Homo sapiens: one gene and its partner. The protein of the gene in region 2 purifies or fractionates together with the protein of the main gene of each other region. This does not show direct contact. Each region holds a gene or a part of one and is shown on either strand. Other genes may lie near its edges.

Region 1 (3,359 bases), on a different chromosome or scaffold from region 2:
GTGGTAGCGGGTGCCTGTAATCCTAGCTGCTAGAGAGGCTGAGGCAGGAGAATCACTTGAAACCGGGAGGCAGAGGTTGCAGTGAGCCGAGATGGTGCCACTGCTCTCCAGCCTAGGTGACAGAGTGAGACACTATCTTAAGAAAAAAAAATATATATATATATACATATATATTTATTTATTTATTTATTTTATTTATTTATTTAATGGCTGTACCCTATATTCTTCTTGATTTCTAGCCTTTTATTGGCTCTCAGATTGCCAGAGTTGGGACTCAATAGTAAGTAACCATTTTGTTGAGGTGGTAGTGATTCTACCAGGGTGAGTTATCATGACAGCAGAATCACTGCGTTTTTCTCTCTACTCTGTGGCATAGACTCTATGCCATAGAGTGACGTGTGAAAGGCTTGAGGCTCCCTACCTACGAGACACCCTGGTCCATTCTAGCAGTATGGCACGTGCTGACTGGGTTTTGAGTCTCTTGCTGTAAAATCACATTACTGCACTTCCCTGCATTTTCTCATCCAAAAATGGGGATTACCTGCTTTGTGGATCGGTTTGCAGATGAAATAACACACGCAGGGTATCTAGCATGGTCCCCCACATGGCACATTCAGTGTTAGCCACACTTCCATACTAACTGCCCTGCGGGGATATTTAATGAGCTCTTAAATGGCAGAAATGTTGTGTCTTTTCCTGTTCCCTTAGTATTCCTATTTTTGTTGGTAATTTTTCTTATGAACCATGCAGTTGTCTAGTTCAGGCCATTTTAGTATGCAGTTTTATCTTTGCTTCCAACATGATTTAATGTTCCCAAATTGGATTTCACATAATCCTAGTGTCCTTTGAGACTTGAATTGGTTCTAGGCCAAAAAAGGGTGAGGGGGAAGGAAGAAATTCAGAGTCAAATTTGGCAAATAATATATCCCTGTCGTTTTGTTTTTTCTTTTTAAGACTTGGGCCAGGTGTGGTGGCTCACGCGTTTAATCCCAGCACTTTGGGAGGCTGAGGCAGGCAAATCACCTGAGGTCAGGAGCTCGAGACCAGCCTGGCCAACATGGTGAAAAATACAAAAATTATCCAGGCATGGTGGCCCACGCCTGTAGTCCCAGCTACTCGGGAGGCTGAGACAGGAGAATCTCTTGAACCCGGGTGAGCCGAGATCGCGCCACTGCACTCCACTCTGGTCGACAGAGCTAGATTCCATCTCAAAAAAAAAAAAAAAAAAAAAAGACGACTCAGTATACAAATAAAGACTGGAAAGTCCTATATTAAAGGAACTAGTTAAATACTAGTTTATTTTACTTAATCTAGTGAATTTTTAAATATTTTCTTTCTTTCTTTTTTTTTTTTTTTTTTTTTGAGACAGGGTCTGGCTCTGTCAACCAGGCTGGAGTGCAGTGGCACAATCTCAGCTCACCTCAACCTCCACCTCCTGGGCTCAAGCCATCCTCCCACCTCAGCCTTCTGAGTCTGGGACTACAGGTTCCCACCACCATGCCTGGCTAATTTTGTATTTTTTGTAGAGACAGGGTTTTGCCATGTTGCAGAGGCTGGTCTCGAACTCCTGAGTTCATGCAATCTGACCACCTTGGCCTCCCAAAGTGCTGAGATTACGCCCGGCCTAAATATTACTTTCAAATAGAACCATCTTCATGGGTAGCAGTTTATAATACACAAGTAGAATTTGGGAAATGTAGTCCCAGTCTTCCATTCTTCACAGTGGATGCTTCAGCCAGTTTCCTGTCTCTGCACACACACTGCCCGACAGCGGGCTTTCCCTTCTCCTTCAGAGCAGTAGCAGTTCCCTTTCTTCATTCCCACCCATCACAGTGGCAGCCCCCTCTGCCCTCCTGTATTCTGAATCCCACCCTTATAATATGCTTAGATTTTGCCTTTCTCCCAGCCGTTTTGTGAGCATTGTTCGTGTGTACCAATTTTTTCTCATCCTTTAAAAAGAAAAAAAAAAAGCCCCTTTTCTCAATTGTACATCGCAAATCCAACTCTTGCCCTCCTGCAGTGTCAGAGGACTTGGCTGTGATGGGAATAAGCCTTGGCTCTGTTCTCCTTGCATACTTAGCCCATGGGAACCCAGTTTCTGGCCTCACCAGGAATGTTGTTGTGCTTTGAGCTCCCTGTGGCCTTGCATGATGCCTCCGTTGGTCCTTACAGGAGGTGATTGGCTGGCCACCTCACTTGCTTTCTCCTGTGGACCCTTCTTTCTCTGTCCTTCCTTGAATGCTGCCTTTGTCCCTCATGATTATGCTATCAACATTCTTCTCTTTCTGCTTTCTCTGTAACAGGTTTATTGACTCTTTTTTTTGAGAGTCTTGCTCTGTCACCCAGGCTGGAGTACAGTGGCACAATCTTGGCTTGCTGCAACCTCTGCTTCCTGGGTCCAAGCGATTCTTCTGCCTCAGCCTCCCGAGTAGCTAGGATTAGAGACATGTGCCACCAAGTCTGGCTAGTTTTTGTATTTTTAGTAAAGATGGGGTTTCACCATGTTGTCCAGGTTGGTCTCAAACTCCCAACCTCAGGTGATCTGCCTGCCTCGGCCTCCCAAAGTGGTGAGATTACATGTGTGAACCATCCACCCACCCTGATTCAACTGACTCTTAACTTTAAAAATCACATTGGTCTTACCATACATAGTTCATCAATTGTGGGAGAGAAACTTGGGTGTCATGCTTTATTTATTTATTTTTTTTTTGAGATGGAGTCTCACTCTGTCACCCAGGGTGGAGTGCAGTGGCACGATCTCAGCTCACTGCAACCTCAGCCTCCTGGATTCAAGCCAATTCTCCTGCCTCAGCCTGCCCAGTAGTTGGGACTACAGGTGCCTGCCACCACACCCGGCTAATTTTTTGTATTTTTAGTAGAGACAGCATTTCACCATGTTTCAGTCTCCTGACCTCGTGATCCACCCTCCTCGGCCTCCCAAAGTGCTGGCATTACAGGCGTGAGCCACTGCACCCAGCCTATTTTTCTTTTTTTAATAAGAGATGGAGTCTTGCTTTGTCACCCAGGATGGAATTTGTAGCATAGTAGTGTGATCATAACTCACTGTAGCTTCAAACTCAGGCTCAAGTGATCCTCTCACCTCAGCCTCCTGAATAGCTGGAACTACATGCATGAACCACTGCACCATTATTTTATTTTTAAGAGACGGGATCTCGCTGTACTGCTCAGGCTAGCCTTGAACTCCTGGCCTCAAGTGATCCTTCTGCCTTAGCCTCCTGAGTGGCTGGCTCCACTCTGCTTGGCTCTGATATTTTTCCATAAAGCCTATCATTCATTTATCATGGAGGTATGTTAATTTTGCCTTCTTAATTTCTCTCAAATTCACCTGCTCTTTGCCT
Region 2 (3,172 bases):
TCTGGAGTGCAGTGGCATGATCTAAGCTCACTGAAACCTCTGCTGGCCGAGTTCAAGCGATTCTCCTGCCTCAGTCTCCCAAGTAGTTGGGAATTACAGGCACCTGCTACTCAACCTGGCTAATTTTTGTATTTTTAGTAGAGATGGGATTTCACCATCTTGGCCAGGCTGGTGTTGAACTCCTGACCTCATGGCCCACCCGCCTTGGCCTCCCAAAGTGCTGGGATAATGGGCGTGAGCCACTGTGCCCTGCCTGGTCTCAATCTCTTCACCTCAAGATCTGCCCGCCTCGGCCTCTCAAAGTGCTGGGATTACAGGCGTGAGCCACCACACCCGGCCTGAGCAGACTTTTAAAACAGAGCATGAGAAAAAAAAGGAGTGAGTAGAACAAAGTTAAAAGCCTTTTATACCACATTTGGTGTCTGAACTTGGTGTTACAGTGCATGACTTTATCATTATAGGCTTATAAGCAAGAGAGGGAAATGATGAGATAGATACAGTTTTAAAAATTCACCTATATTTTAATGCTTTCATAGTTTTATTTTTTAAAATACTGATTCATTTGGAACTTTGTAACATTTAATACAAGGCAAAATTATATAAATCGCAAACATCAGTTAAGTAAACTGTAATGCACACCCAACAGAAAGAACTTTAAAGCCTCCAAGAGCTTTGAAGCTTCTTCCAAGTTTTTAATTTCACAGAAATACAGCAGAATAAACATTCCTGCGTATAAGACTTTGAAGAATTTGAATCATGAAATATTGTGTGGTAAGATGGATTGAAGAGGCAGAAAGGAAAGTTCTAAGGGTTTGTTTTCTAACACTGAGAAATCATGTCAGCTGGGAAAAAATACCAATTAATTACTGAGTACCTTACTGCATACATTTCAACCTCATTCTCATTTGGTACACTGTAAAATGGCACAGTCCACAGATTATTATATATAGAAAGCAATCCTTTTCTAATCCTATTCCCATGGATATCAATGTTCAAAGTTTACTGCCATGAGCTCAATCAAGGTATAGTGTGATTTGAAAGTGAAGCCTTTATTGTGCCAGAAGGTCATAGCATAACTGACTTCATGCAAACAGGGAGCTCTCCCTTCTTTCCTAGTTGGTCTGCTCCTTCTCCTCCAGGATGAGTACAGTGTCCACAGTTATTCCTATGTCCTCCAGCGACTGGCCTCCCTCCACTGCCAGAGGCCGTCTGGGAAAGGAAGTAGAAAGGCTGTATAGAGATATGTGGTACCCAATTCTCGTCATCCAGTCAAATAAGACCTAGAAGATGAAAAGCTTGGCTTAGTCATTATCAAATACTTTACACACCATGTCCCTTTAGACCACCATAACATTTTATAATTTTGTCAATGTAAAATCATATCCCTAGGAGTAATGAGACAGAAGTTTCATACCTTTCAAAGAAACTTTCTAGAACTTAAAGGAAAATAGCTTGCCATGAGTTCAGAGATAGGAATATTCTTTTTTTTTTTTTTTGAGATGGGAGTCTCGCTCTGTCACCCAGGCTGGAGTGCGATGGCATGATCTCGGCTCACTGAAACCTCCACCACCTGGGTTTAAGCGATTCTCCTGCCTCAGCCTTCAGAGTAGCTTGGATTATACAGGCGCCCACTACCATGCCCAGCTAATTTTTGTATTTTTAGTAGAGACGGGGTTCCACCATGTTGGCCAGGCTGGTCTTGAACTTCTGACCTCAAGTGATCTGCCTGCCTGGGCCTCCCGAAGTGCTGGGATTATGGCCGTGAGCCACTGCGCCCAGCCAAAAATTAGCCAGGCGTGGTGGCGGGCACCTGTAATCCCAGGCCCTCAGGAGGCTGAGGAGGGAGAATGATTTGAACCCAGGAGGCGGAGGTTGCAGTGAGCCGAGATCCCACCACCGCACTCCAGCCTGGGTGACAGAGCAAGACTCGGTCTCAAAACTATATATATACACACACACATATATATATATATAAAATTTTTTTTCCCGAAACATATAATGGCACAGAAATTTGAGACCAGCCTGGGTAAGATGGCGAAACCCAGTCTCTACAAAAAATACAAAAATTAGCCAGGCCTGGTGGTGCATGCCTGTAATCCCAGATACTCAGGAGGTGAGGTGCAAGGATCACCTGAGTCCGGGGAGGTTGAGGTTTCAGTGAGCTGTGATTGCACCACTGTGCTTCAGCCTTGGTGACAGAGTGAGAACCAATCTTACAAAAATAAATAAAAATAATGGTAAATTATCTGTCAGGAACACTGATCTTATTTACATTCACATTAACAAGTTATGATGGCCAGGCACAGTGGCTCACACCTGTAATCCCAGCACTTTGGAAGGATGAGGCAGGAGAATCATTTGAACCCAGGAGTTCAAGATTGGCCTGGTCAGCATAGTGAGACCTGTTCTATTTTTAAAAAAATAAAAAATATTAAAGGTTTTGTTTTGTTTTGTTTTTTGTGATGGAGTCTTGCTGTCTCCCAGACTGGAGTGCAGTGGCACGATCTTGGCTCACTGCAACCTCTGCCTCCTGGGTTCAAGCGATTCTCCTGCCTCAGCCTCCTGAGTAGCTGGGACTACAGGCACGCACCACCACGTCCGGCTAATTTTTGTATTTTTAGTAGAGACAAGGTTTCACCATGTTGGCCAGGATGGTCTTGATCTCTTGACCTCATGATCCGCTTGCCTCAGCCTCCCAAAGTGCTGGGATTACAGGCGTGAGCCATGGTACCCGGCCAAAAAACTATTAAAGTTTTAAGAATCCCTGTTTTCCCAACGCATTTGCCAAATCTGGGTACTATTTCTTTTTAATCTTTGACAGTCTAGTTAAGTAGAAAATACTGTTTCATTTTATTTGTACTTCATTGATTCTATGTGAGGCCAAACATTTTTTTCATATATTTATCTATCACTGAGTCTTCTTCGGGAAATCATGATATTCATGTGTTTCTTTCCCTGCCAGTCTACTGAGATGTTTATCTCTTCCTTGATTTAAGTTCCTTATAAAAAATAACTATCATACATAAATAGTAAAATGGGCTGGTCGTGGTGGGTCACGCCTGTAATCCCAACACTTGGGTAGGCCAAGGTGGGTGGATCACTTGAGCCCAGGAGTTTGAGACCAGCCTGGCCAACATGGCAAAACCCCATTTCTACTAAAAATAAAAAATTA

What was found. Proteins that work in one complex are often made in the same cells at the same time.
Region 1: the proteins of UBXN8 (region 2) and TMEM165 purify together in Homo sapiens (affinity purification with mass spectrometry, with the first as the bait; one large-scale study listed by BioGRID). This does not show direct contact.

Annotation. Positions count from the first base shown.
Region 1 is NC_000004.12:55,419,957-55,423,315, forward strand, and holds part of TMEM165 (putative divalent cation/proton antiporter TMEM165 precursor), read left to right. Parts: intron 1-3,359. UniProt on the Homo sapiens protein: Putative divalent cation:proton antiporter that exchanges calcium or manganese ions for protons across the Golgi membrane.
Region 2 is NC_000008.11:30,764,335-30,767,506, reverse strand, and holds the end of UBXN8 (UBX domain-containing protein 8), read right to left. Parts: intron 1,281-3,172; coding exon 1,113-1,280; 3' UTR 501-1,112; downstream 1-500. UniProt on the Homo sapiens protein: Involved in endoplasmic reticulum-associated degradation (ERAD) for misfolded lumenal proteins, possibly by tethering VCP to the endoplasmic reticulum membrane. May play a role in reproduction.